Homo sapiens: one gene and its partners. The protein of the gene in region 2 interacts with the protein of the main gene of each other region in a pairwise test. Each region holds a gene or a part of one and is shown on either strand. Other genes may lie near its edges.

Evidence for each region.
Region 1: the proteins of DCC (region 2) and MAPKAPK3 interact in a two-hybrid assay, tested with the Homo sapiens proteins (one large-scale study listed by IntAct).
Region 3: the proteins of DCC (region 2) and TRMO interact in a two-hybrid assay, tested with the Homo sapiens proteins (one large-scale study listed by BioGRID and IntAct).
Region 4: the proteins of DCC (region 2) and TBC1D2 interact in a two-hybrid assay, tested with the Homo sapiens proteins (one large-scale study listed by BioGRID and IntAct).
Region 5: the proteins of DCC (region 2) and TDRD7 interact in a two-hybrid assay, tested with the Homo sapiens proteins (one large-scale study listed by BioGRID and IntAct).
Region 6: the proteins of DCC (region 2) and FBP1 interact in a two-hybrid assay, tested with the Homo sapiens proteins (one large-scale study listed by BioGRID and IntAct).

What each region holds. Positions count from the first base shown.
Region 1 is NC_000003.12:50,636,559-50,641,779, reverse strand, and holds part of MAPKAPK3 (MAP kinase-activated protein kinase 3), read right to left. Parts: intron 1,415-5,221; coding exon 1,275-1,414; intron 74-1,274; coding exon 9-73; intron 1-8. UniProt on the Homo sapiens protein: Stress-activated serine/threonine-protein kinase involved in cytokines production, endocytosis, cell migration, chromatin remodeling and transcriptional regulation.
Region 2 is NC_000018.10:52,751,561-52,756,781, forward strand, and holds part of DCC (netrin receptor DCC), read left to right. Parts: intron 1-493; coding exon 494-814; intron 815-5,221. UniProt on the Homo sapiens protein: Receptor for netrin required for axon guidance. Mediates axon attraction of neuronal growth cones in the developing nervous system upon ligand binding. Its association with UNC5 proteins may trigger signaling for axon repulsion.
Region 3 is NC_000009.12:97,908,256-97,913,476, forward strand, and holds part of TRMO (tRNA (adenine(37)-N6)-methyltransferase), read right to left. Parts: coding exon 5,146-5,221; intron 4,721-5,145; exon of another isoform or gene 2,763-4,720; coding exon of another isoform or gene 2,663-2,762; intron 2,362-2,662; coding exon 1,705-2,361; intron 1-1,704. UniProt on the Homo sapiens protein: S-adenosyl-L-methionine-dependent methyltransferase responsible for the addition of the methyl group in the formation of N6-methyl-N6-threonylcarbamoyladenosine at position 37 (m(6)t(6)A37) of the tRNA anticodon loop of tRNA(Ser)(GCU).
Region 4 is NC_000009.12:98,202,792-98,208,012, forward strand, and holds part of TBC1D2 (TBC1 domain family member 2A), read right to left. Parts: intron 637-5,221; coding exon of another isoform or gene 618-636; coding exon 497-617; intron 1-496. UniProt on the Homo sapiens protein: Acts as a GTPase-activating protein for RAB7A. Signal effector acting as a linker between RAC1 and RAB7A, leading to RAB7A inactivation and subsequent inhibition of cadherin degradation and reduced cell-cell adhesion.
Region 5 is NC_000009.12:97,493,218-97,497,203, reverse strand, and holds the end of TDRD7 (tudor domain-containing protein 7), read right to left. Parts: intron 1,542-3,986; coding exon 1,321-1,541; 3' UTR 1,079-1,320; downstream 1-1,078. UniProt on the Homo sapiens protein: Component of specific cytoplasmic RNA granules involved in post-transcriptional regulation of specific genes: probably acts by binding to specific mRNAs and regulating their translation.
Region 6 is NC_000009.12:94,628,510-94,633,730, forward strand, and holds part of FBP1 (fructose-1,6-bisphosphatase 1), read right to left. Parts: intron 1-5,221. UniProt on the Homo sapiens protein: Catalyzes the hydrolysis of fructose 1,6-bisphosphate to fructose 6-phosphate in the presence of divalent cations, acting as a rate-limiting enzyme in gluconeogenesis. Plays a role in regulating glucose sensing and insulin secretion of pancreatic beta-cells.

The DNA of each region.
Region 1 (5,221 bases), on a different chromosome or scaffold from region 2:
GCACATACCTCTCTCAGTGAAAGCCTGGTCGCCACGCTCCTGAATCCTGCTGAACAACTCACCACCTTCCATGCTGTAAAAGAGGTGACTATAAGCAGAGAGGGGGAAACTGCACATCATCCTACCCTTGCCCCTGCCCCAAATCATAGGCCCAGGCTTCAGACCCTGCTGCTCCGCTCCTCCCCTACTGAACAGCCACTGTCAGCCTCCCTGTCCCTTGTAGAACCTGGTGCATGGTGGGTTGTCAGCTTAGGTGGGTTGAACTGAACTCTTGGAACTAGAAGAGGGTGGTGGGCTCTGATCCCTGCCAAGAAGCCTGTGTGTTCCCAGTGGCACGGCCCCTACCTGACTGTGAGGGCTTGGGTACTCCCAACCCCATTCAAGTCTCTGTTTCCCCAAATGTGGGATGAGATGTTAATTATCATCATATGACCACTGTTCTCTGGGCACCTACTGTGTGCCATGCCCTGGGATCCACGTTTCATGAGCGCTGTTGTGTGATCCTGGGCTGGTTCTTTCACCTCTCTGTGCCTCAGCTATCTCTTTTGTATAATAGGGATGACAGCACCAACCCCATAGTCATGCAGATTGAATATGCAATACACATGGGCCACTTAGAATGGAGTCAAGCACAGGGTAAATGCTACATTAAGATCTTTCCCACATCTTACATCTGAGTTACAGAGATTCAGAGAGGTTAAGAGCTGCCCACGGTCACATAGCTAGTGGGTAGCAGAGGCAGGATCTGAACCCCAAATCTGAAGAACTGGCTAACCGGTCCAAGGATGGCTGGTGCTGAGCCATGGTGTTACAGGAAGAAGCCCAGGGTGGAAAAGGCCACTGGCTCCTGGTTCTAGGCCCCAAGCACCCAGTTCCTGGTGGGACCATGGGAGCACATACCCAGGTCAAAAGGAGAGAAAGCTGAGGGAACTGCGTGGGTCCTGTTCTTCCCCAAATCCCCCATCCATCCATATTCAGGGATTGGGAGCCTTCTCTGACAGCTCTTCCAGTCCTCCTCACAGAGTAGAAATCACACTCAGGGAGGCCATATTAACCCCTGTGGTTTCTTGCCCACCCTTGAGGGAATGTCCTTATGGCCAACTCCATAGATCCACAGGCAGGGCCTGCGGCTGCCTGCTCCATTGCCCCTCAGGGGCTACAGTGGCACCCAGATCTGCTACCTGAAAAACAAAGAAAGCCCCTAGAAGCGTGGCAGGGAGCCTGAGGGCCACAGGGATGCCGAGGGGGTGTGGAGACAGGGCAGGCCAGCATACCATTCCATGATGATGAGGAGACAGCGCTTGCCATGGTGCATGTTCTCATACACATCCAGGATGCAGACAATATGGGGGCCGCCAGAAGCCTGCCAGTGATGGTCTACCTCCTGCCGGGCCTTGGGGCTGTCATACAGGAGCTGTAGGTGGGTGCACATAGAAAGTGTCAGGCTCAGAGCCCTCTACCATCATTTTGCAGACAAAAACATATAAGCTCTGAGGCCTGTGACCTGCCCCAGGTCACACAGCTTATAAGGAGCAGAATGAGAATTTGAATCTAGGTTTCTCTGACTTGTGGTCCAGTGAGCCTCTGGACTTGAGGGTCAGTCCTGGGCTCAAGCAGCTTGGCAGGTAGTTCAAGGAGTCCGTAGGAGGTGGCTGACTGCTTCGAGGGGCTCAGAGGCCAAAGAAGCCCTTGCTTCCCTTCTCAGATGGAAATTGAGTGGGTTTTATAACCCCACTCTAATCACACAGCAGCCATGGGACCCCAAGCCAGGGGCCACACATCCCTTGAGCCTCATTTTTACCATAAGGATGACACAGCTGTTCCATTTCCTAGGCTAGGGTTGGAAATTGTACATGTAAATTGTACAGGATAGCACCTGGTACATAGTAGGCCCTTGGTGCCTCCCTTGTGATTCTCACCCTGGGCATCTATGAGAAATGTAAGTGTAGAAGCAGAAGGTGCTGGGGAAAGGCTGGGGAGGGGAGAGGGTGCACTAACACGCAAATCTGCCCTACAGGACTCAGCATGATCAGGAGAGTGCTGGAGTGAGAAGGAAGACTTCCTGCAGGAGAGGTTGAGGCCTGTGTCTGTCAATCTATCTCCCACAAAGAAACTGGCCCAGAGTGGAGGGAGACAAGGCCACACTCCTGTAGGGGTAAAAGTAATTAAGACTTCAGATTCTCCAGGAGTGGGCATGAGAACAAAACTCTCACTACCAAGAAAAGTGCTTCTAAAATGAGTTGCTTGGTCATGACCACCCAGTCAGTACCCAGCTCCCAAGGTAACTTTATAGCCTTCCTGGGAGCTGCTATGCAGTACCAGGGCGACAATGTCATCGCACTGTGAGAGAGGTGGGGCCATCTCAAGGTGACCTAGCTGCCCAGCCTCCACCCTCATTCCATGCTTACAGATCACCGGTAAGGACCCAGAGGTAGAGACTGGGGGAAGGGAGGACCCTAGTTGAGGGAGATGACAGCTGAGTGGAGTGAGATGTGGGTTTGGGATTGAATTCCTCCAATGACTCGGTGTGACCTCAGGCATACATTCACAGCTCCAAGCTGCAGCCCACAACTCTGTAAAATGGTATAATAGCAGAGTCATCCCCACAGGGTGCATCCCAGCCAAGGCAAGCATCCAGTGGGCGGGCATCAGGATCCTTGCTCGGGTTAACTCAGCCCTGGACTGTGGCTGCCAACCAGCACCAGAAATGAACAAGGCCTCACAGTGGCCCTGCTGTAGGGGGAGAAGAAGAAGTCAGCATGCATGAGGAGATGGCCCAGAATGGGGACAGCAGGGACAAGCCACCCCCAAAAAGGGTTGCTCACTCAAGGACCATCTGTGACACTGTGTTTCCTAATGGAGGAGGGCTGGGGACCAGGGCTGATGCTCAAGACCGGGGCTCGGATCAGCACTGCTCAGCAGCCATAGGACCCTGGGCTGCCCCAGCCTTAATTTCCTCCTCTGCAGGATGGGGAGAGCCAGGCCACTTTACACAGGGCACTGTTAGGGGCAGGCTCTGTGACCATGCACGCTCTCTAGGTAAAGACAAACTGGGTCAGGGCAGTGTCCCAGAGAGGGGAGAGGCAGGCAGTGGTTTCTCGAGCCTGCTGCCCCTTGGCTGTCCCTCCTTTTCTGGAGCTGCTCCCCTCAACCCTAGCCTGGGAATACAGGCAGTGCAAGGAATACAGAGAGCCAGGGGCTGGACAAGCCCTCTAGCAGCTCTGTGCCCCTGCTCCATTACCCAGAGCAGGCTGGGGGTGTGCGTCAAGGCTGCTGTGGGCAGACACTCCTGCCTGGACACCATGGATCCTTGCTCATGCTGCCCTTGCCTTCCAGAACACCCCTCAGGTTAGTGCCCGCACAATTCCCAATCACCAGCTTCTTTCTCAGCACTGGGACCAGAAAGCTCAGTGCCCCCCACTTGCCTCCACCATGTCCTGTGGCGGCCCTAGCTAGGGGTACCCCAATCCTCAGCCACAGGAGCCAAGAGGTACCATCCTCCCTCCCTGCACCGGGTTCCTTCTTTGCCTCCTCCCCCTCCCCCTGCCTGGTTCTCTCCTCCCCAGTCTGACCTGACCATCTCCTGTCAGGCCTCCCAGGCTGGCTCCCACACTCCCTCCTCACTGCCTGCCTTGTGGCATCTCACTCCCACATCAGAGTCCTCCTCTTCTCTCTTAAAAGTCCAAGCTCACAGCTGGAATGCTTTCATTAGGGTCCTCAGCCCTGCCTCTCCCCTTATGACTCTAATCCACCTGTGGCCACAGACACTTCCTCACATCTTCCAGATAAATGTCCTCCCCCAGCACGCAGGGCTTGCCTTCCTTTCCCACCTCACTTCCTGCCACCTCTGGGCCAAAACCACTTTGTTCTGGCCAGAAAAATATATATGTTGTTCCCAAACAGGCCTTACTCCCCCAGGCCTCTGTGTCTAGGTCTGTGCTGGTCCCTGTCATGTGCATTCTTGCCTCATCCTCTCTGTTGGGTCAACTCCCTCTTTTTGGGGAAACTTCAGGGCTCAATTCAGATCGATCAATCTCTCTCTCTCTCTGTCTCCATCTCTCTCTCTCTCTCTCTCTCTCTCTCTCTTTCTCTCTCTGGAAAGTCCTCCCAGCACCTTTTTTTCTTTTTCTTTTCTTTTTTTTTTTTTTGAGACAGAGTCTTGCTCTGTCACCCAGGCTGGAGTGCAGTGGCACGATCTCGGCTCACTGCAAGCTCCGCCTCCCGGGTTCACGTCATTCTGCCTCAGCCTCCCGAGTAGCTGGGACTACAGGTGCCCGCCACCACGCCCAGCTATTTTTTGCATTTTTAGTGGAGATGGGGTTTCACCGTGTTAGCCAAGATGGTCTCGATCTCCTGACCTCGTGATCCACCCACCCAAAGTGCTGGGATTACAGGTGTGAGCCACCACGCCCGGCCCCTCCCAGCACCTTTCTTACTGGTTTTGCTTCTGTTCCTCCTACCACCCTGGGAGCAGCTTGAGGGCAGAGGCAGGTCAAGTTCACTTGGGGGTCCCTGGCTGGGGCCTGGCAGGAAACACTGGGCTTCCGAGCAAACAAAGGATGGGAGGATGGGCCCAGGACTGGAGGGAGATAGGAGGAGCCAGAGGGAAAGAAGGAGGGCGGTAGATGGCCAAGGAGGGGCTGGAGAGCCTTCCAGCCTGGGCCTGCATCCTGTGCTTTGCTGAGGTAGAGGAGCAGGTGGAGCTGCCCTGAGCTGGAGCCTCTCAAGGCTTCTGCCCCACTGAGTCCATATTTAGGAACCCATTTCCCACATGGATTAAAATAGTCCCTCTACAAACGCCAAAGCCCTGAAAATAGGCATAGGGACAGGGGAGAGGGCCGTCCCCGGAAAATATAATAAACGCCCCACTGGCCTCTCTGCAGAGTACATCACAGGAGCCAGAGCCCTCAGCCTGGGCCCAGGTCCAGCTGCCAAGAAATCCCCTGAGCTGTCTCTCCTGACCCCTTGAGTTGACCCTGAGCCCAAAACCTCCTAGAGCCTCAGTTTTCTCATCTTCCTTCCCCATAGCCAGAGCCTTCTCCTCCAGGCCTCCCCTCAATGTGGTCCACCTCAATGTCATCTCCTCTCAGAAGCCCTCCCTCTTCATCCTTTGTTTTTCTTTCTTTCAATATATGCTTTGTTTATTGAGGTATAATTGACATATAGTAAAATGCCCAGGTCTCAAGGGTCCAATTCAATGAGTTTTGATGATTGCACACAC
Region 2 (5,221 bases):
TTTGCCCATGCTGTTCAGAGTTGACTTTTATTCTTATAGAACCCTGTATCAGATTGGATTTTTTAAAAATTTCAATGGATGCCATAATCAGAATGAAGAGATAGAAATAGTCTCCCCAAAAGTCTTAGCTACCACACTAATAACTATTGCTACTTTAAAATATCTAATTTTATTTGGAAAATATTAGTTTTTTCTGTCTAAATTTTCATGTACTGACTGATATGTGGTAATAAGCATGCCAGGATTTATATGAATTTGTAATTTCTCATAATATTAACTTTTGGAGCCAATTGTTTTCTTAATTATGATTACCTCGACTGGGTACTTTTTTGCTTATTTAACATAATATCCTTGATTTTAGTTTTTATTTATTCTTGGACATTGTTCAAAGCCCTCAGCTTTTGTGAAAAGCTTTGTAAAGAAAAGACAGGGAATCTAAGCCTGAGATTTATTTGAATACATGAACATATTTCCCTGTGCTCTCTTGTTCCAGGTTTTCAAATTAAAGCTTTCACAGCACTGCGCTTCCTCTCAGAACCTTCTGATGCCGTCACAATGCGGGGAGGAAATGTCCTCCTCGACTGCTCCGCGGAGTCCGACCGAGGAGTTCCAGTGATCAAGTGGAAGAAAGATGGCATTCATCTGGCCTTGGGAATGGATGAAAGGAAGCAGCAACTTTCAAATGGGTCTCTGCTGATACAAAACATACTTCATTCCAGACACCACAAGCCAGATGAGGGACTTTACCAATGTGAGGCATCTTTAGGAGATTCTGGCTCAATTATTAGTCGGACAGCAAAAGTTGCAGTAGCAGGTAGGTGGATTCTTCCTTCTCTTCCTCCTCCTCCTTCCTCTCTTCTTCTTATTCATTTTTGGGGATGAGAAAATAATTTTTGTAGAAATAATGTACATTTTAAAAATCTTTTAAATTTTAAGTTGACAAGTAATTATATATTTTTATGAAGTACAATGTCATGTTTTGATGTATGTATACATCGTGGAGTGATTATATCAAGCTAATTAACATATCTGTCACCACATACTTCTCTCTTTTCTGTGGTGAGAACATTTAAAATCTACTCTTTTAGCAATTTTGATATATACGTTGCTGTGCAATAGATATTAAAAGCTTATTTCTTCTCTCTCACTGAAACCTTGTGCCCTTTGACAAACATCTTTCCATTCCTTACCACGCCCCATCTTCCCAAGCCTCTGGTAACCATTCTGCTCTCTAGTTCTATGAGTCTGACTTTTTTATAATAGATTCTACCTGTAAGTGAGATCATGCAGTATTTTTCTTTCAGTGCCTGGCATGTTTCCCTTAGCATAATATCCTGTAGGTTCATCTATGTTATCACAAATAACAGGATTTACTCTTTTTAAAGGCTGAATAGTATTCCATTGTGTGTGTGTATGTATATCATATATACACACACACACATATATATATATATCTCATATTTTCTTTACCCATTCGTGATTGATTCCACATCTTGGCTGTTGTGAATAATGCTGCAATTAACATGGAGTATAGATATCTCTTATATACCCTCATTTCAATTCCTTTGGATATATACCCATAAGTAGGATTGTTGTATCATATGGTAATTCTAATTTTAGTTTTTTGAGAAAGCTACATAACCATTTTTCATAATGGCTATCTAATTTACATTTTCACCAACAACGCACATTTTTAAGAAAAAGGAAAGATGTAAAAAGATTCATGTTTATTCTGTCATGGATTTGACTGACCTTTCTCCTTAAATTATCTTAGAAAACAGTCATAGGACCTCAACTGGCTGCGTAAAGTTATGAGATTATTTTTTTAAACAAAACTGTTTCAAGTTGACTTACTACTTATATCTAAGGGAGGACTTCTCATTAACAGAAAAATATTAGAAAATATAATTTGCTAATTTTACTTTACAGCTTCATTAAATGCTAAACTTTTGCAGAGTCCATTTTTTTGTTGTGGGGCCTTAAGAAGAGTAAATTTTATTTTAATTATAGTGGCATGGCCTACAACATATACATGTCAAGTAAGAAATAAAAATTCCTTCTAGTGCTTCCAAATTTCTTAACGCTTGGTAACATGTTGGCTCAACAGCTGAGTAATAAGATGAACAGTTTTTGTTTTCACCTGGATACACTGAAGTCATGTAGACTCTGAAAAAATGGTACTGACCATTCTGGAACCCATGATATTGCTATTTCTGCCCCACTCTTCTGGTTAGAAGGCAGCTCATAATTATTTCTGTTGGCCCCTGAAATGTTAGACCTGCAAAGTGAAGAATCAGTTTTTTTACTTGTTTCTATAAAGATTTGACCAAAACCTGTCTTTTTTTTTAACTTTTATATTGACCATAAAGCAAGGCAAGCAGATTGAACTTGAAATAAATTTAAGTTATGAATGGGTAAGCAGATTTGAAGGGCTGCTTTCAACGTAATCTTTAGTTCTCAATAAAAACAATATTGAATCATAGGCTGTTTAGTCATTTGTTATGGGTTTTCTTTCCCAGGTCCTACTTAGTCTAGTCTCATCTTGGAAGACTGATCAGAATAACTCATTTTCATCAATAACAGGACAATTGGGCAGAATCACCACTCCTTCATGCACTCTCCTAGTGAGGGTCTGAGAAAGTTGAAATCTGAAAGATGTGATTTTGTCAGGTGGTGCTATAAAGAATTACATCTCATAGATATGTGGTTAATTCCCATATGTAGCTTCAAACCACTCTTCTGTAGCTTTTCTCCACTAAGAACTCTGTAGACTGAATGTTTTTTCTCCCTAAAATGTGTATATTGAAATTCTAACCCCCAATGTGATAGCACTGGGAGGTGGAGCCTTTGAGAGATAATTAGATCATGGGGTGGAGCCCTCATGAATGTGATTAGTGCCGTTATAAAAGTAACCACAGAACACCCCTGCTCCTTTCACCATGTGAGGATACAATGAGACGTCTGTAATCTGCAACCCAGAAGAGGACCCTCATCAGAAACCAATCATGCTGGCACCCTGATCTCAGATTTCCAGCCTCCAGAACTTTGAGAAATCAATGTCTGTTGTTTACAGCCTACCCAGTCCAGATACTTTGTGATAGCCACCCAAACTGATGAAGGCAGAGTTTTCCATAGTCAGTTAAGCCAGATTTTACCTAGAGGTAGACTGGCTAGCCATTCTGCTTTTCTTTGGACTGACTTGGCTTTTGCACTTGAAAGTCCCATATCCTGGGAAGCCACCTCAGTGCCAGGTAAAACCAGGACAGTGGGTCACTCTACCTCAAAGTGTCCCTGGTCTGCTTTAGCAATGACAGACTGAGGTGCAGATGCAGAAAACCCCCTCTACTCAGGAGACAGGCCAGGTGACATCCTGATGGTGAAAATCAAGGCTATAAAGTAACTGGAACCTTGGAGTGATGAGTGTCTGAAATTTGATTGATGAGTATAAAGTGTAGAGAGAACTGAATGTTAATGTTAATTATGATTGATTAGGAGAAACAAGTGGAATAAATCCTTCAGATTTGGTAAAAGCAGCTTTCTCAGAATGCTCCAAATGAAGTGGAAAGGGGACAATTTGACTTTCAGTCACTAGAGAATTTCTGGCCTCATAGATCCCACCCATCAGTTGTCCACAAGGCCAGAGGAGGTCTGCTGATTTGAATGAAGCAGGCTGATATTTTGATGCCTTATTATGAAAGGCAGCTGCCTATGCACTGTTAATGAAAATGGCCTGTTACATTGCAGTTTCAGTCTTCATGCAATCTACATTCACATTTACATGTGCTGTCTTTCAGTAGTGAAATGAAGAAGAGTTCCTTCGCTGTGAGATATTAAAATACAGTGGCTTGGACTTTAGTATTCTGTACAAGGATAGGCACACGGATTCAGTCACTGAGTTAAAATCTCATATTAGATTGTATCATTTCAAGGCAATAAGGCTGTTCACAGCATTTTAAACACTTACCATGCTGTTTGGCAACACAGAATACATCAATGTTATGTCTGCTGAGGTTAAGATTGCCAAACCACTAGAATTCACAAGGGGCATATATCTTCCCAGTAATAAAGACCATGGACCTGATTTAATCTCAGTTTTAAAGCATTAGCACTCAATAAACCAGTCACCACTAAATGGTAACAGTAGGCTTTGCTTGGGTAAAACAACAACAACAAAAAAATGTTTTGTACTCTCAGGTGCTGTATAGAGCCCATATTAAATAATGTCCCTCTTCCATTTTTGCTTTCTCAAAGTGTCTTTTGATAAAAAGAAGTGTAGCAAATGAAATCTGTCTTTAATCAGTCAGCACATTTTACACAATGATCTTGCCATGCACCATTCATCCTATTTTCTAGGAGCTTCTCAAGTGCTCTTAAAGGCTTGAGTGCACACTTGGCTGGAGAGGGAAGGAAAGTAGGAAAGATAAACGAAGAACTATCATTCCATCCAACATTTTCTTAAAAGTTGCAAAGTAACAGGCTACTGACTCTCAGTATTTCTAGTCATTTTGAGTTCTATCAGTAAAGAATACCTGGGCTATTAAGCCTCCATTTGAAAGCAACTTCATCATACTGGCTGAAATTTGGGAATTTTATTTTTATCCAATTAGCTCTAATCTAAAATGCTGCAGTGTTTCTGTGCCATGTATACTTCTATTTAGTCCTCTAGATTGAGAACAGCTGAAGAAGGGAAGCAGCGCTGAACTTATCTATGAAGCTTTCCTACCATCCCCTCTACTGTGTATCTAGCAAAGTATGTCATGTTAATAGTAGACATTTGCCTTACCAATGAAGACCTGGGGCTTTATGCCATATAAAGAGAGCTTTCCGCTGTTGCCATCCTCCTCTCTACCTCTCCTTCTTTGTCTCCCTTCTACTCCTCCTCCTTCTTCACTGGATTTCAGCAGATCAAACTCACCCATATATGTGCATACATAAACATACTCTTAACAAACTGAGTTGGAATAATTTGCTTTATATCTCAATAGCCTACAAATTAATTAACTATTGAAAACTTTGTGATTAGAAAATTGACTGTTTGGGAATATTCAAGTGCCACTTAAAAAGGAAAAAGCATGAGCATTTCTTCATTCCTTCCCTAACCCTTACCGTGAAAATGAACTTGCATCTGGCCAAGCACATCTTCCCTACTCTAAACGTTGCCAGCTATCTGAGCCTCTGGAGTATTTTCTGTTCAGCAGACATAATAATAACCTACCTCCCA
Region 3 (5,221 bases), on a different chromosome or scaffold from region 2:
CAAAAAATTAGCTGGGTGTGGTGGCGGGCGCCTGTAGTCCCAGCTACTCGGGAGGCGGAGGCAGGTGAATGGTGTGAACCCGGGAGGCGGAGCTTGCAGTGAGCCGAGATCGAGCCATTGCACTCCAGCCTGGGCGACAGAGCGAGACTCCGTCTCAAAAAAAAAAAAAAAAAAAATCAAAATATTAGCCAGGTGTTGTGGTGCACACCTGTAGTCCCAGCTACACAGAAGGCTGAGGTGGGAGGACTGCTTGAGCCCGGAAGGCTGAGGCTGCAGTAAGCCATGTTCTTGCCACTGCACTCCAGTCTGGGTGACAGAGTGAGACCCTGTCTCAAAAATAAAATAAAATAGTAACAACACTCCAAGCCTGCTGTATTCTTAAATTTTTCAGTAACTCTTATCACCTTCTAATATTATATAATGTTGAATATGTTTGGTCTAATAACTTGATTGCTTATTATACTTTTAATTTGTCTCTCTCCTCCCCATTAGAATGCAAGCTCCATGACAGCAGGGGTTTTTTATATCTGTTTTGTTCACTGATGTATTCCAAGAACCTAGACCAATGTCTGGTACCTAGCAGAAGCTCAGTAAACAACTGTAGAATGAATAAATGAACTTCCCTCTTTATATGGTTATGCTGGCTCCTTACTGAGTTGTAACACAAAGAACAGCTTTTTGCAATCTGACATCTCCTTGGCAACCAGCTTCTTCTTTTTGATGGAGTCTCACTCTGTCACCCAGGCTGGAGTACAGTGGCAACATCTCGGCTCACTGTAACCTCTGCCTCCTAGGTTCAAGCAATTCTCCTGCCTCAGCCTCCTGAGTAGCTGAAATTACAGGCACCTGCCACCAAAACTGGCTTTTTGGATTTTTAATAGAGATAGGGTTTCATCATGTTGGCCAGGCTGGTCTTGAACTCCGGACCTCAAGTGATCCACCCACCTCAGCCTCCCAAAGTGCTGGGATTACAGGAGTGAGCCACCGTGCCCAGCCTGAAATTAGTTACTTCTTACTGGTATCGCTGTATCCACATCTTAACAGCCCCTTCCTTCATCCTAGGCTACTGCTTGGGATCTGCTGTGGGCTGGGGAAACCAGATAACATTTGTTAAGAACCATGTGTTAAAGTAAGCAGGCTCCATGTAAGAGCCCTGTGGCCTCTCTTCTGCAGCAAAGTGTATGCCTCTAGCAGTGGGACTTTGTTGGGGCAAGTTCTGTGCTAAGAGACTCTTCCCCTGTGACTCTGGGCTCCTAGAGTCCTCTGTGCCAGAGGCTGAGCTATCGACTACCTGACAGTCAGAATACAATGCAACATTTCTCAAGTCAGACAGTAAAACAAATAAGAAAACTTTATGTACATAAGTATAGAACAAGCACAATTTAGCTTCTGAATGATATTTGAAGACTCTAAGAACTACTGTAGCAAGTAGACAAGGGGCTGTAAGTCATAGGCCACCTTGTGAGGCAGCAGCCACTCTCTGCCAATGCTTTACTGACAGCCTGGAACTAACTGTGCTGACCACACAGTTGTCCAACAAAAGTCATCACATGATGGTACTGCAAAAATATTATTTTATACCTGTTTCCTAAAAACCAGTCATACTGACAAACACTCCACATACCTGCCTTCACAAATACCAAACTTGGCTAAATCTCAAAGTAAAAGTTCATCTCTCATTCAGAATGAAGAAACTGAAGATACCTTGTGAACTGAGCTGCCCAAGGTCCATCTCGGCATGAGGAGTAAACCGCACTTCTAAAGTGGCCACAGGAGCCTCTGTCACCCAGGCAGGAACCACGCTGCGGGGAGCTCCATCAGCCCTTCCAGCAGGGCAGTGAGGGGCCATGGGCTGTGTCTCTGCCCTGCTTCCTTGCAAGACTGCTGCTCCTTCCACTCTTTCTAGCTTCTTGTCTGTACCTTTCTCTGAAAAGCTCTTCTCTGGGCAATATGGGCCAATTTGTTCTTCTGCCACGCTGGAACTCTGATCACGTCTTGATTCCAAACCAAAATCCACTGCTATCTCCCTGTGCATAGGAAATGCTTGCTGAATTCTGGCTGTGTCACTGTGTGTCAGGTAGTTTTCTTCTGAAGTTCTGTCTTCAGGACATTTAGGTTTCCTCTTAGTGCTATGGTGGGGTTGTGGCTCATCACACCCTGAGAGCTGTCGCTGGTCACAGCTGTCAGTCTTGCTGTCAGACTGGGACACAGTGTTTGGTGTATGTTGGTTATTCTGTAAATTAAAGTCTGCTAAAGGCTCCATCACATTTTGCGGTGAGTCATACTCAGCTATGTAGGGCTTGATGTCTAGTACGGGTGTGCCATGTATCATGTCAATTCCAGAAAGGTATATAGCTCCACCTATGACATAAAAACGTGAAAAATGAAGAACAGTGCAAACACTTGGAGAATACAGTCACGCCCCAGAATCCTCTAACACTGTCTGCTTACGCCTCACTGCACTTACTCATAATTCTCTCACACAGACCTAGTACCAACACACACCCTTCTTGCTACCTGGTAGCCCATCCTCTTCTCTACCTATCAAACTCCTACTTGCTCTTTGAGGCCCTCAAAAGCACACCTTTTACAAAGCCTTTCTGGCTCCTCCAGACAAAAGCATTCTTTCCTACAGTCCCCATAGAGAAGCCTGTGCACAAACCTCTGCTAGAGCGCTTTCCCCACGGTAGGGTAGTGACCTGCTTAGAGTCTTCATCCCTAGACGCAGGCAGGCCCCTTAACACAGGCTGGGACCAACTCATCTTTGTATCACTGGTGCTTCTGTTCCAGGGATATAGTAGTCCTCAGTATATCTCTGTGGGACCAATGAAGGTTCTTACTGTGGCAAACAGATCCAAAAGTGGCCCTGTGACCCGCACCTCCTGAAGTTCATGCCCTTATATAATCCTTCCCCTTGAGTGTGACTGGCTTCTAACCAACAGAATATGGCAAAAGAGGTATGATGTCCCTCCAGTGACTATGCTTTTCATTAGCACTGCTGCTGGCTGGAAGACTCACTCGAGAGACTCTCCTTGAAGGCTTGCTGAAGTAGGCAGGCGTGCTAGGAAGCCCACATAGCAAGGAACTGCAAACAGCCTTTAGACACTGAGGGCAGCCTCCAGCCAACAACCAGCAAGAATCTGGGGCCCCCAGTCCTACTACGATGGCAAGGAAATCAATGTGGCCAACAGTCTGAGTGAGCTTAAGCAGATTCTTCCATGGTCAAGCCTCCAGATAAGAACTCATATCAGCTGACAATTTAATTGCAGTCTAGTGAGACCTAAGCAGATGACCTAGTTAAGCTGTGCCCATCCTTCTGACCCACAGATACATAATAATGTTTCAAACACATAATACATGTGTGTTGTTTAAACTGATGATTCTGTGGTAATTTGTTACACAACAATAGAAATCTAATACATCCATCAAGACTCAAAAGATTAAGCAGCACATAAGTCAGCATTACCAAATACTAAAGACAAGTCTCCAGCTGTCCCACTGGACAGATGCTGTCCAGTTACTGCTACAAATAGCCATCTACTAACCTTACTCTTGGAAAATAGGCCAAATGAGAACAGAAAAACTACATGCAGTCACATTTGATTCCGTCTCCATTTAAGAAAAACGTAACTAATACAGGACCCTGATTTCTGAAACATGTTATTATGAATGAGCTGGAACTCTGGAAAGATGATTCTGGACTTGCTAGATGATGAATTATGCCTAACAATATCTGTAGGAAAAAGAAAGGCACTGTAGCATAAGTAAGACTTCAAAGGATTTAGAGTCAGATGACCACCTGGCTGGATGCTATTAGACAGATTATCTAATCTTAAAGAGCCCTAGTTTCCTCACCTATGAGATGAGGATTGCTACTTTGTCAAACCCACAAAGCCACTGTGAGATAAGGTACGTGAACACTGTTTACTAACTGTAAAGCACTGCACAAACACTAGTTGCCATAAAGCTTATATAGTAATGTCTACAGTGCTACTGTGTTTGCCTTTTAACCTATCTGACTTGACCTTCCCAATTGAAACATTAAGTTCTTTAGGGCATGGATTTCTACTTTCATCTGATTTGTTTATCACTATAGCTCTAGCACCTAGGACAATGTCTGGCACATATTCAGTGCTAGAAAATATGTCCCTGAATAATCATAAAATCTTCTAGTACTTGCTATCCAAGTTTGTTAGCCATTACAAATTGATAAAATTCAAGGTGGATCAGCTACTGAATTTTTCTGAGAAAACTACCTAAGGCCCAGTTGAGTACAATCCAGTGGGAGAGTTCAAGTTCTGGGAAAGAACAAGCAAAATAACTGCTCTCATCTATTTAGTGTCCAATAGCCTGAAAAAGTAGTTTTAGAACTTCTCTCTTACAAGATTCTCAAAATATTCTGTGGAATCACAGAGGAAGCAGGTCCTTCTCCTTTGCCCACTTCACAACCAGCAGGCTGAAGCCTGGAATGGTCTCTTGACTCCTAGTTTACCTGCCATTTCATCTGCTGCCTCTATAACAAATGCATCTGTTAGGTCAGAATGGAATGCTTTCCATAAATGCGTAACTAGGTTATATACGAACACACAGTTAAAACTAGTTTAAAACTTCTACAACCTGACCAATGTTTGTCCTTGTAGTGTGATTCATCCCAGACTCCTGCCACACAGCACAGTTGACATCAGCACTGCAGCCATGATATCTGTCCATTTCCCCAAGGCTGCAAGGAAGGAATGATATACCACCAGTCTATGTGTTTTCCATATGTGCATGTACAATGAGTTATTGTGTGTTAAATTGGAAAGTGTCCATTTATTTTTAATCATTTTGTATTTACTGCATTCCAAGTCAGAGAAACTTTGGTTACTAATTTAATGATTGTGAAATTTGTGTTATTTCTAAATAATTTAATAGTTTTGGATATATGCAATAATATAAACAAGCTCTGAGCATCCTATGAGTTTATTTCAACATTTTTCAATGCTAACATTCTTTTAATCATTGTATTTTCTTCAATGTCTGGTGGTTCTCAGGAGTTAACATCATTGGTACTCGTCTGAATAAACAGCCAGTGGTGAATGCTGTTTATTTTATAAGGCTTTTTTGGGTGAGGAAAAAGGTAAAAGTAGAAATGAAATGGGTTACCTTCTACCTTTTCCAGCTTGGCCAGGGTCAGTCCTATTGCATTGGGACGATGAGGGCTCCTTGTGGAAAAAACTCC
Region 4 (5,221 bases), on a different chromosome or scaffold from region 2:
TTCAGAGATGTTAAGATGTAAAAATTAAATATGTACATTTCCTAACTTGCCTTGCAACTAGGGCAGCCATGAAATAGTTCTGACCAGTAAACTGCAAGTAGAAATTGCTGGGTCAGGGAGCCAGCTCCTGGTGTTCACCTTCTGCTTCTCCTGGCCTAGGCCATGCCCACAGTGCTGGAGGCGATGCAGCCATTTTGTGACCAGGAGGTGATGGGTGTGAGGATGAAGGCCACCTGCCAGAGATGGCAGAGCAGGGAGCTAGGAGCCTGAACCCTGCGGTACTGCCTTGTCATTCACTATCTGAGAATAATAATCCCCGATTGAAGCTGTTGTTAGGTTGGGCTTCTCTTCCATGCAGCCAAATGCACTCCCACAGTGCAGAGGGAGAAATGGAAGCCCGAGAGATTCCCAACTTTCCTGAGAGTCACAGGCTTCTAGGAACAGCTCTGGGGCACTGCCCTACATGGCTGCAAAGTCCCCTCCTGGCCCCACTTACCTGGGATGCCGTCAGCGTGTTGCAGTAGTAATCAGCGGGCATGATGGTCTCCACAATGGCCACCAGGCACCAGAAGGCGCTCTCCTCCTCCTCTAGGACCAGCAGGGCAATGGCCGCCAGCCTGGAGTAGTAGGGAAGGCCTGGAGTGATTACAGAAGCCGTGGCCCTGCCAGGCAGCACATGGCAGAGGTGGCTTCCTGGGTTCCAGGGGGAAAGTCCTTCCATGTGAGCATCAGTGCAATCCCACTCCCTAACCAGATTTGTGCTCCTGGCACCTGGGGTGAGATAAACGCTCTTTTGGGGAGGATGACCGGCGATTTCCAGAGCAATGGGGGTCACTTCAGAGCAGGGGCTCTGAAATCAGGCTGCTTGGGTAAATCCTGATCTTGTGGCTTCCTGGGTGACCTTGGGCAAGTTACTGAACCCCTGTAAGCCTCAGTCTCATAATAATCACAGGACTATTTTGAGGATGAACAGAGCTCATTCAGTGCCCCACACAGTGCCTGCCACACAGTGAGCTCTTTATAAATGTTAGCTATCCTCACCTTAGTATTCACAGGCTTTGAGACCTTGGCAAGTACACTAACCTCTCTGGGCCTTGGTTTCATGATCTGTAAAGTGAGATTAACAATATCTATCCCCCCGGGGCCAAGAGGCATCTTGAGACAGACCTACCTTGCCTCGCTCACTGCCTGGCATTTAGGAGGTGCTCAATGCACATAGCTTTTTTTCTCCTTTACTTCCCCTCCCCGCCAAGTTAGCATAAGGCTCTAATGAAATCATGGGTAAGAAACAAACAAAAACCCACAGGGCTGAGCAGGGAAGTCTTCCTGGGATAAGTACTGTTTTCTCTACTTCTCCCATCTTCCCTGGCAGCTCTCATCCCGGGCCAATCCAAGAAGTCATTTTCCAAAAATGTCTTCCAGGGACTACTGGTCTCCCAAGATGCTAGGTGAACACAAGGTTCTATATTCAAAGATATCTGGGGAATGCTGCCCATTCTAGCCCCTGAGAGGCTTATGACACACACTGTCTTAGTAAAGCCTCTGAGAAGTCCTGTGGTGACAAAACGCTGTGTGGCTGACTCTAACCCAGGGTCGCCCAGGGGGTCCACAGAGCCCCTGTTGTCCATTGCACCCATGGGGGCCTAGTAGAATGAATGTTCCTCAGAGGACCCTGGAGAGATGTCGCTTTAGAAAGCCTCTGACTCTCTGGTCATAACGAGCATTTAAGGAACACATTCCCTCATCCAGATATTTATGCTTCTTTGGGTTCTCTCTAGATTGGATTCATGACCTCCACCTTCTTTTGAGGCTCACAACTCTTAGAAACATGGTTGAATCTCAAAAGAAAAAAGAAATATCCCTTCTCTTTCCCCAGTAGATTGGGAAGGAATTTCTCCCAAATTTGGTTCAGATATTTGTACAAAACCTTCCTAAGTCGAAGCTGAGTGGATGAAGAGAACAGTCACAGGTCTCCTGGGAAATAGGAAGCTCCGTTCTCTCAGAGCTGGTGGGGAGGGACCTCCATAGGTCACTGAGTTCAAGGATAGCAAACGTGAGATACACTGGCCTCTATCCTTTTCGTCTGTGCCCAGGGCAGACATAACTAACTGATCATGGCAGCATTCCCTTTGTCTAAGCCCATGGTAGACATAAGTAATTGATCACAGTACTCTTTCCCACTGAGTCTGAAGGCTGCCTCAGAAACTCTCTCAGGACAGGGCTCCAGGTAGCTGCTTCCTACTGGTCATCTCTGGTCTAAACAAACTCCTTATTGCAGTGGTGGAAAAACCAAGGCTTAGAAAGCAGAAGTTACCTGCTCAACATTACATAGTCAGTTGGTGGCAGAGTGGAAACAGAACCCAGGGCTCCCAAAGTCTAGCCCAGTGCTCTCTCCACTCTATCCCACCCTGTTCCCCCTGAGCCTCAGAATGGCCTCAGTCTAGGGAGTTAGCTGCCAGCATTGGTTTAGACTTCAGCACATGTTAAAAACTCAGTTATCTGAGGCTGGTTGCTAGGGCTTACTAACTGCTCAGGTGTATGGCTGAATTCGAACCTAAGGCATTTAGGGCCCAGGTAGGCTTGCAAAGAAAGGAGTGTGTTGATGGGGGAAAAACAAACCACTTTTAGAGCACTGTACTTATTTTCATAGGTTTAAAACATTTGCTCTAAATTAGCATTAGACCATCACTAAACAAGCTGGATTTGTTGCCTTAGAGGCAGGGTCTGTCATCTTGAGACATCAAACATGCAGTTCCTTTTCTTTTCTTTTTTTGAGACAGAGACTCACTCTGTTGCCCAGGCTAGAGTGCAGTGGCATGATCATGGCTCACTGCAACCTCTGCCTCCTTATCACCTCAGCCTCCCGAGTAGCTAGAACTACAGGCATGTGCCACCACACTTGGCTAGGTTGTTAGGTTGTTTCTTGTTTTTCGTTTTTTTAATTTTTTGTATTTTTTGACAGGGCTTTGCCATGTTGTCCAGGCTGTCTCAAACTCCTGGGCTCAAGGGATCCACCCACCTCGGCCCCTCAAAATGCGGGAATTACAGGCGTGAGCCACGGCGCCGGGCCCACACATGCAGTTCTAATGGCTACCACTAGATGGCAAAGAAGACGTATCAGGGACCTGCAGGCTTGGGTTTAGAGCCTCCAAAAGAATACGTTGCACTTGCCACATTTGAACAGGCTTTCTATTATAAGTAACTTTCTCTTTTTTCGAGATGGAGTCTTGCTCTGTCACCAGGCTGGAGTGCAGTGGTGCGATCTCGGCTCACTGCAACCTCTGCCTCCCTGGTTCAAGTGATTCTCCTGCCTCAGCCTCCTGAGGCAGCTAATTGTTGTATTTTTAGTAGAGACAAGGTTTCACCATGTTGGCCAGGATGGTCTCGATCTTTTGACCTCGTGATCTGCCTGCCTCAGCCTCCCAAAGTGCTGGGATTACAGGCGTGAGCCACTGTGCCTGGCCTATTACAAGTAACTTTCTGTTTTAAGCAGTAAATATTTACATGAATACCAATTATCTGCATTTGCATATCAAATTTAAGTAAAAATGCTATTCAGAGAAAGATATTTTAGAAAACCCGTCTGGGGACCTTCCGCCTCTCTTGGCCTCAGTTGTCCCTTCTGCGCCTCTCTGTGGCCTGTGTGCTGCCTCCTTCCACACAGGGAGAAGCTTCTCTCCTCCTATGAGGCTTATCTCAAGTGCCCCTCCTGCCATAGGATTTTTCTCTGCCCCTTCAGCACAGGTTGAACTCCAAAAGCAGGTCTCGAGAAGGTTACATCCACATAGGGGAAAGGTTTCTGGGAGGCCTCAGCACAGCCTCTGACTACTGCTATTTGGAGAGAGAGCAGGTTGTAGAAAGGACTGGGTTTGGGGGCTGGGGGCGGGGGGCCAGGGTGAGCAGTTGGCTGGGTCAGCATTTGTGGTGAGACAACGGGCAGGTTCCTCAGCCTCTCAGACCCTCTCATGTCTCATCTGGGCATGGTGGCACCAGTGAAGGTTTTTGTGAGGATTAGATGCCATCAGGTGTTAAACACCTGGCATCCAAGAGGCCCCCATTATGCTTTACTTCCTACCTGGCTTTTGTGTGAAATGCAAAAATTATTATTCATTCTGATCTCATAGCTTCCAGCTCCCTTCACAGCTATTCTTAGAAGAGGCTTTGCAGGTTTTGTTTCTTCTGGATTTTAACATGTTCAAACAAATGAGAAGTACAGGGGCTTTTGTCAGACTGTTGAATGAATGAAATTTCTACAGACCTGACCTGTGGCAGACGTTTAGTGTGGCATGAAATCTGAACATATTTTCCAAGGAGGCTTCGACTGAGAGGCATTACTGTTGGAGTTTAACTCTTAATTCCCAGGAATTGTACATACACATGCTCAATTTCACCCAATTTTAGGCTGGAAATAGAGTATGAAAAATATCTACCTTTGGGAACCACTCAAATTTGAGTAAGGACACTGAATGTTGATTCTGTGTTAAATAAATGTCACACACCACCTATTCTAAAAAAAAGCAGCATGGCTTATGTAAATTTTGCTTAGGTATATGTGTGTTTAAATTAAATCGAGTGAAAACTTGCTTTGGGAAAATATTTGCAACTATGCAGCTTCTACTGAAATAGCTGGGGCTGGAGCGGGGGGATGACAGTCCCTCACAGTCTTGGAGGGGAGATAGCCCTGTGAACCAGGTGACCTCATCCCCTAACCCCAGTCCCTCCCTGCGTCCCCTACCAATTGGACCAGAAGTGGAAATTATTCCTGGCTGGGCCAATCAGATTTTTTCTTTGGGGAATTTAGAACTGGAACATGAGGGGTGGGGTGGGAAGACTCACTGAAAGGCTCAAGACTCAGGGGCTGAGGTCTCCATTCTAACAGCTTCGATGGTCCCTAAATGTCCAATGAATGAATGGACAGAGGCTGGTCTGCTGAGAGAGAAGGAAGCAGACACGCAGAATGAAGAGAGGCCAGAGGCCATGCAGCTGCAGAGGGCAGCAGAGCAGTACCTTGGTGCTATACGAGCTCAGGTCATGGCATCCCAGGACTGTGGCATGAAGGCTGCCCCCTGGGGTTGTGCAGGGGTGCAGCCCTGCTGCAGACAGCAGCTGCCTTGGCTTCCAATGACCATCTGGTCCTCAGCTGTGTTTTCTTTTCCTGGCTTCTGTGAACTCCCCTTGTAACATTTAGAAAGTCTCTTTTCCCCGGGTCTTCTGCATGGGT
Region 5 (3,986 bases), on a different chromosome or scaffold from region 2:
TTCACTCTTCCCAATCTGTATCTAAGCTGTCTAATAATTGTAATTAAAAACTTTACAAGGTCATCAACACTTTTTCTTCAACACCATTGCTCCACTCTTAGTCCAGGGCCTCCCCACCTCATCTTTGGACCACTGCTAAAGCCTATAACCTGTCTGCCAATCTATCTGCCCATCAATTAGCAAGCACAAAAGGAGTGCCTGATGTGTGTAAGATGCCATTCTGACGGCTGTGGATGCTCAGACGGTGGTGTGCTGGAGAGCCTGTCATATGCGGTCTCAAGAGCTGCTTAGGTGAGTCTCTTCCCAACTCCACATTCAGTCTTGTCATATTATTAGCTGAAAATCAACAATGGTGGGACCATTTACAATATGAGAATTTTCAGACACTACAAATCAAGGCTCAGCTCCCCACTCAACAGAACCAGTTGTCAAACATTTACTGGTATATCACCGGAGATGACTAAGACCCGTCCCTCTTTCAGGGAGACCATGATCTAGCTGGGGTAATCGGTGCACAGACTAGTCATATACTATAAAACACAGTGACATATGGGCACCAAGAGAGGCATGATCAAAGTACGATGGAGTAGAAAGGGGTACCAGAGAAAGCTTCATGGTTGGCCCAGGAGGTCAGGCAGGACACTGACAAGCAAAAATGATGGGAGGAGAATGAGATGCAGGTTGACAGAATGGAATAAGCAGGGGTTCAGTGACCAAATAAAGGTACAGTGTGGCAGGGAGTGGTAGATAAGGAGGTTGGGTAGGAGGATTGTAGAAAGCCTGGGTCCTAGCTGGACTCTGTGGGCAATGAGAAGAGAAGCCACTCAAGATTTGGGTTGAGGGTCACGTTGGTTTGCCTGGGCTGCTCCTCTAGAAATGCTGATGTGTTAAGACTCAGGATAAGTCCTCACATGCTTTGGTGATCACTTGCTTTGAGATACACTACTACATCAGGGTAGAGTTAAGTCATAATAGTCTCAGCTTCACTGGAGAAGAACCCAGCTCTGCAAGGAAGACAACATGAAACGGAAGCTTTCATCTTAAGATCATGAAGCCTAGAAATTAAAAGGTAGTCAGCTTTTATATTGATAAACATTTTTATTCTAATATTATAGTAATAATTCAAGTACAATTTTCTTTGAAAAGTCAACTCTGTTAAAACAAAACTTGTTAAATATCTTTCATCAAACATAAGCATATTCTTTTCAATCCCCCACAGCAGTCAGAGCCATGTAGCAGAGTTAAGATTTTTTTTAAGCCTACTACATTTTGTTATTGCTAAAAAATCTGAATTAGTTGTCAAGGTTTCAGAGGCAGTCATTAATTAACTTTTGAAAGCTCTATCAGATACTCTGACATAAAATCATGAATCCAGGTATCGGTGTCTGGCAACGATGTGTCCACTAAGTAGACCACTACTTTCCGGTCCCAAGGGTTAGCATTTTCAATGACTGTCTGCACCAGTGCCACCAGAGGTTTCTTCTCCACATGATTTCGAAACACCATAGAAGCCTCCTCAGACCACTGGTTGCACTTCACTCCTAGGAGGAAGAGAGGAAGAAGAGGGAGCAGTGAGGAGTCAAAGGAGCTTTTCTTTGATCCATTATGATGGAAAATTATTTAGTCAATTCCAAAGTAACTTAAGCATCCCAGGTTAGACTTGCCTGAACTGAAAAACGGTTACTGAACAATCTTAAAACACTCCAGCTTATAGTTTTTCTACTCTGAATGGAGTCACTCTGGAAATCTTTAACTAAAAAACAAGTTTCATTTGAGACTTAACATTGTATTATAAAATGAGGTAATAATGACTACTGTACAACCCCCATAAAGTATATGCATATTTAAACTAATAACAGAATAAAATATCAATATCATATTAAATGACATTTCTTTCATTAAAAATTTTTTTTCTGATGGACCAAATATCATAAAAAAAAAGAATTATTGTATGATTCATTTACAGTATAGTTATTTAAAATTATACACAGCATCGTGGGAAAAGCACTGAATTGAAAGTCAACAGACTCAGTTACTATTCCCAGCTTTTCCTCTATCGGGTGGTGTGGTCTTAGGCAAATCAGCTGATCTCACCTATGATAAAAGAACCTGATTGGATCAGATCATGAGAAATCAAGTTAGAGAATTCTAAATTCGATTTTAAAACAAAACTGGGACAAGAAAGTACACATTGGCCGGGCACAGTGGCTCACACCTGTAATCCCAGCACTTTGGGAGGCCAAGGCGGGCAGGTATCTTGAGCTCAGGAGTTCGAGACCAGCCTGGGCAACATAGCCCAGCCCTGTCTCTACAAAAAATACAAAAATTAGCCGGGTGTAATGGCCTGTGCCTATAGTCCCAGCTACTCAGGAGGCTAAGGGAGGAGGATCGCTTGAGCCTGGGAGGTCAGGGCTGCAGTGAGCCGTGACTGCATCACTGTACTCCATCCAGCCTGGGTGACAAAGTGAGACCCTCTCGAAAAAAAAAAAAATATATATATATATATATACATATATATATACATATTTCAAGAAATACAATTAAGTCCACATATACTGGATTACATAAACTGTAAATTATGCCCCAAAGTAATTAAGATATGGAAATTTCAGACATAATTTTGGAAGACTTGCTATCTATATAGCAAATGGGCTAAATTCTTTGATTATTTATTTCCCACAAGAGAAGCCTAGAAATTTCATTTTATCTGCAGCAGCCCTGACAATCTTTGAGCCATGTTATTTAAGAAGAAAAAAGGTAACCCATTGGTAAGGTAAAAGATGATTCCACAGTATGGCTCCCTTTCTTCTAGGATTCAGAAAATTTTGTGCATGGCCATGGTGCACTGATGCAAAGAATGCCCAGGTCAAGGCCAGATGTAATGAAGCAACAACTCACTGGTGTTGTGGGAAGTCAGGAACCCCAAATGGAGGGACCGGCTGAAGCCATGGCAGAAGAACATAAATTGTGAAAATTTCATGGACATTTATTAGTTCCCCAAATTAATACTTTTATAATTTCTTACTCCTGTCTTTACTGCAATCTCTGAACATAAATTGTGAAGATTTCATGGACACTTATCACTTCCCCAATCAATACCCTTGTGATTTCCTATGCCTGTCTTTACTTTAATCTCTTAATCCCATCATCTTTGTAAGATGAGGAGGATGTATGTCACCTCAGGGACCCTGTGATGATTGCGTTAACTGCACAAATTGTTTGTAGAGCATGTGTGTTTGAACAATATGAAATCTGGGCACCTTGAAAAAAGAACAGGATAACAGCAATGTTCAGGGAACAAGAGAGATAACCTTAAACTCTGACTGCCAGTAAGCCGGGCGGAACAGAGCCATATTTCTCTTCTTTCAAAAGCAAATGGGAGAAATATCGCTGAATTCTTTTTCTCAGCAAGGAACATCCCTGAGAAAGAGAATGCGTCCCTGAGGGTAGGCCTCTGAAATGGCCGCTTCGGGTGCGGCCGTCTTTTATGGTCACTGCTGTAGGGATGAAATAAGCCCCAGTCTCCTGTAGTGCTCCCAGGCTTATTAGGACGAGGAAATTCCCACCTAATAAATTTTGGTCAGACCAGTTGTCTGCTCTCAAACCCTGTCTCCTGATAAGATGTTATCAATGACAACGTGTGCCCGAAACTTCATTAGCACTTTTAATTTCGCCCCGGTCCTGTGGTCCTGTGATCTCGCCCTGCCTCCATTTGCCTTGTGATATCTTATTACCTTGTGAAGCATGTGATCTCTGCGACCCACACCCTATTTGTACACTCTCTCCCCTTTTGAAAATCACTAATAGAAACTTGCTGATTTTACGGCTTAGGGGGCATCACGGAACTTGCGGACATGTGATGTCTCCCCCGGACACCCAGCTTTAAAATTTCTCTCTTTTGTACTCTGTCCCTTTATTTCTCAGACCGGCCGACACTTAGGGAAAATAGAAAAGAACCTACATGAAATATCGGGGGTGAATTTTAC
Region 6 (5,221 bases), on a different chromosome or scaffold from region 2:
GAGAAGTAGCAGGCAGCAAACAAGAGAACAGGGCACCTGCTGAGGCCAGAGCACCACTGGCCGCTACTGTTGGCAACAGAATTTAAATGCCCCGCACCTCACAGCAAGGAGGCCAAACGGGCTGCATAGAACCCCAGAGCCCCAGCCGAATCAGGGCACAGTGTTGCACAAATGTCAGCTACTTCCAGGCATGTGTGAATCAATAGGTGGCTTTCAAACCACGGCTGAAAATTCTAGGACATGCTTTTAAATTGCACTGTTCCAGAGACCCGGATATTTGGTTTCCATATATCCAAGTTGAAGCTGAGATTTTCTTGAGAATAGCAAAGAGAACAATGATGAGGAAACACTAATCATGATTCACACTATATTTAAATACTTTAAAATCTCGTTCTATGTTGTATCAAGTTTATAAAACAAGTATATATTACATGCAATCTATTGGGTAATTTCAATTAAAGGCTTTTTGTTGTTGTTTTTTGTTTGTTTTGAGACAGAGTCTCGCTCCGTCACCCAGGCTGGAGTGCAATGGCGAGATCTTGGCTTACTGCAACCTCCCCCTCCCGGGTTCAAGCGATTCTCCTGTCTCAGCCTCCCGAGTAGCTGGGATTACAGGCACCTGCCACCACACCTGGCTAATTTTTGTATTTTTAGTAGAGACAGGGTCTCACCATGTTGACCAGGCTGGTGTCGAACTCCTGACCCCACGATCCGCCCATCTTGGCCTCCCAAAGTGCTGGGATTACAGGCGTGAGCCACCACACCTGGCCAAAGGTTTTTTTTAATATAGAAAAAGCAGAGCTGATTAGCATGAGTCCTGCTCGTGCCCTTCACAGATCCATGGCCATTGAATAGGCACAGCTGTTGATATGGGGGCGCTTCTGGAAATAAAACCACAGCTGCTTGGAAGAACTAATTCACCTCTCAAGCCTTGGCCTAGAAAATGGAAGCCTGTTAACTAGGAAGCCTGTTAATTGATTTGGGTGGTAAGACGGATAATTAAAGCAACAAGGAAGGATCAGAGCCTGAAGCTGAAGGCACCAGCCTCCAGGAGATCTTCCATGGTGCCAGGAGCCTGGAAAATGTGTGCAAGAGTGAGACACCAGCATTGGTGACATCACATAACCCCCACTCCTGGGGAGGTAGGGGGGAGGGTCTAGTCTCTCAACCCCCACCAAGAGAGGACCGGGAGAGCCCTCAGGCATGGAAGCATGACCTTTATGGGGCATTGTCTTCATGGCCTTAGGAATGGCCCACTCTCTTCTAAGAGCCACTGGGAGGGAGGGCACAGACAGGGCTGCCACCCCTGGAAATGCTACCTAAAACCTCGATCTTAAGAGGCCTGGGCCCAACCTGCTTTGTACAAGAATGCCAAGAGTGGAGGGCCTCTGAGCTCACCTCACCTGTTGGGCCATCCTGAGGATGGCACAGCCCTCTACCTGGGACATTCGAAATTAGAACCTTACAGGCAGCCAGAGGTTTTTCTAGTGAGGTCTGAAGCAAAAGTACAGGGCACCAGGTAAATGCCGAGTGTATACTCCAAGGGGACCGAAACTCTTACATAAACATGGCACATCTGAATGTGCCTCTGGAGGAAGAAAGACCTATCAGTCTTGATCCTGGAAAAAAGAATATTTTGTTCACCATGTATCCTTAGCACCTAGAACAATGCCTGCACATAGTAAGTTCTCAATGTAAATGGATGAATAAATTTAGAGAGTAATAAAAGGATCCAAGAATTCCTAAGATCATAAACTCCATTAGACCCAGTGGTATTGGTAATGCCTGCCTGCATAACCTCTACCATCCAACACTCCCAACTCCTGAAAAAAACCCTCCAGATTAGCATAGCTTCTTGGTAAAAGTGTGTTTGCTGTGCAAACTTAGCGTTAGACAAATGCAATGGCCTTTCACCCGGTTCCTCAGGAAACTAGAGTGTAATGGTCAAGGCCCCAGGCTGGCACTCTACACCACCAGGGTTCCAATCCCAGCTCTGCTCCATGCTCAGCAGCCGGGGAAAGTCACTTAGCATCTGTGACCTCTGGTTCATCTGCAATATGGGAATGTAGTGTGTCTGCTTCATAGTCTACAGAGAGGGGGCATAACTGAGTTGATACAGGTAAAGTGGTCAGAAAAGTGCCTGGTGCATAGGCAAGTGTGCAAGAAATATTACCGTTTCCACCTCTAGCTCCCTTGGCATAACACAACCATGCGGAGAAGCAAGAACTCAGCACCAGAAAGACCTCAGTTCAAATTCTGCCTTTGCTTCTTACTGATGATGTGACATCAAGTTGTGCAAAGCCCCTGAGTGGCTGTTTCTGGCCATGTTTGTGGGGATCATGGATAATGCGCGCGGTGCACCTGGTTCATAGTACTCCCCACCAAGGCAGCCACATGACAATAGAGCCCCGCAGGCATCCACTAAGTAAGTGTGGGTTGATCTGGGGATTGGGGGAAGGGGAGGTATCTCTAAACCAGTTTTGCAGGCAACTTCTTGGAGGACAGCCAATAAGGAACTGGCAAAAGAAGAAAAAAGTGCTCCAAGTTTACATTTGATAAAATCTCACTGGGAATATTATTTATTTGAGATGTTCTTGACATTTCACTTCAATTTTATTCAAATTAGTTGGCCCTGCAGCCCAAGTAAAGTGGAAAAGCACCAGGCAGGGTTGAAGTCTCTGTGTCCTTTCCCTTTCCAGCCCCAGAGATACGAAGGAGCTCTTCCTGGAGTTTGGGGAGCAGAACTCAACTGGAGAAACTGCCTATAATATCTCTTCTTTACTTTTACTGTAAATCCCACTGAAAAATTTAAAGAGCTCTAAGTCATTTTAATTCATATGATGGAGAACACCTTAGAAGCATAGATTAATGTGGCCAGTATTTTGAAATCCTTGGATATTTTAATTAAATTTTAGCATTGTTTTCCAAGTTTACAAATGGTTTCTAAAACAGAATGAACCATTTCACAGCCATGGACTTTGTGACACTGAACATGCAGATTTGTGATGATTGGGGGAGGCTGCCTTCCACAGCATCTCTAAAACACTGAAGGACACAAGGATTGGAGCCAGGGGCTGACAGAACTAGAGCCCTCCAGGGCTGCCTGGATCTGCTGACTTAGGACCATCTCCTCCCGAAGTCACTGTGACTGAGTAACACGATTGCAGCAGCAACACTTCACACAGCACACAGAAGAACCAGACTCGGGCTCGGAACACGCAGCTCAACCAAAAGGGAGGGAGATTATTACTTAATCCTTATCACTAAAGTCAAAGGTAAGACTGGCTTGTTACTGCTTGATTCCATGGTAATCAACCATTTGCCCAGCCAGGAACATCCAAAGGTTCAGAAATACATTGAAGAGGTGCTAGTGAGAGCTGCTTTCAAAGGTCACAAATACCTGCCTCTGCTTGCATTCACCGGGGCCTAAACTGGTAAACAGGATGGAACGTGGCTGTCTGCGCTTCTTTTATGCAAACAAACTTGCAATTTCACTCCTTGGTCATGTGGAGAAGAGAATTCAAGAAACATAAAATAAATCTGGTAAAGTTTCTAAAAGCTTAATGCCAAAAACTGCAAATTGGAAGATAAGCCTAAACGTGTATTAGCTGACGTGTCATTCTAAAACGAAATCTGAAGCTCTTTATTATTTCTTCTGTCAAACAGCTGAGAGGACCCCATATATAAAAGTAACTCTTCTGGACATAATATGAGTCTGATGGGAGGACATTTCCTGCAGCCACTCTTGGGTGCAACATTGTTCTAATATGTAACATGCTAGCCTGGACTCTCTCCCTGCTGATAGCATACAGGCTACTGCTAAGAAATGAAGAACAAAACATGCAAATAAAAGTTTACAAAAAAATGAAAATAAAATAGACCAGGCACGGTGGCTCACACTTGTAAGCCCAGCACTTTGGGAGGCTGAGGCGGGTGGATGACGAAGTGAGGAGTTCAAGACCAGACTGGCCAACATAGTGAAACCCCGTCTCTACTAAAAATACAAAAATTAGTTGAGTGTGGTGGCAGGAACCTATAATCCCAGCTACCTGGAAGGCTGAGGCAGGAAAATCACCTGAACCTTGGAGGTGGAGGTTGCAGTGAACCGAGATCACACCACACCACAGCCCTCCAGCCTGGGTGACAGAGCTAGACTCTGTCTGAAAAATAAAGAAATATAGCCTTCAGGAAAACAATGATATTAATAACATTGGTACCCAATTAGTAAACTTAATTGATCCTCCTACGAGTCTCTGAGGCTGTCTCCATCTTAACAATTGGAGAAACAGGTTCAGTGATGTCACATCAACAGCCCAATCCTCACAGACGTTGAATGGCAGGGCCAGGAATCTAAGCTTGGCTCCATCTCTCTCCAAAACGTGCTCTGAATCCCTGCACATTCCTGTCTGCTAAACTGGTCCAGATCTCCTCCTCTTTTCTCTGCCTCAGGGCAAGCGTGCCAAAACAGACAGGCAAAACAGCCTGCAGCTGGACAGCATCTCCCAACAGATCACCCTCTAACATCTCAAGTTCAGCGTTTCCAAAATGTTGGGATCATCTTCCCTCCTTCCCCAGACTAAAAACCAGCTCCTCCTTGTTTTTGTTTTTGTGTTGTTTTGTTTTGTGGTGGCATGGGCTCTGCATTCAATTGCTAGGACCAGCGATTTCAGAAACTCCCTCACAGCCCTTCTCATCTAATCCATGCTCAGACTTCTTCCAAATCCTTCCTCTCCCCTCCAAGGCTGCAGCTCTGCTGGCTACTCAACTGACGGCTCCCCCTTGCCACTGGTTTTCCCATATCCTATCTTTCGCTCTTCCGATATACTTCCAGCCACACCTTCTCCAGATTTGTCTCCAGTCACGCAACTGCCCCACTCAAAAAACTTTCAAAATCCTTGATCTCTCCTTTTCTATACCCCCAAAAGTGTAAAGTGTTCACCCTTGCCATTTGATGCTTCCCCAATGTACCCACAATTTCACATCCACGAACGCCCTACCATGAGTACTCCATGCTTTGGTCAAATTGAGTGGGCAACTTTTCCAGAAACACTTTCCCACCTCAGGACTCCTCCCCCTGTGACCTCCAGCCTGAACTGCGGTCCAGCCGCCGGGCCTTTTGCTTCCCCTGCACGTGCCCATTCTTGGCGCTCCACAGTCCTTCACCATGAATCGTATTTTTGGCACCTCTATGAAAGCATCTTTCTTTTTTTTTTGAGACGGA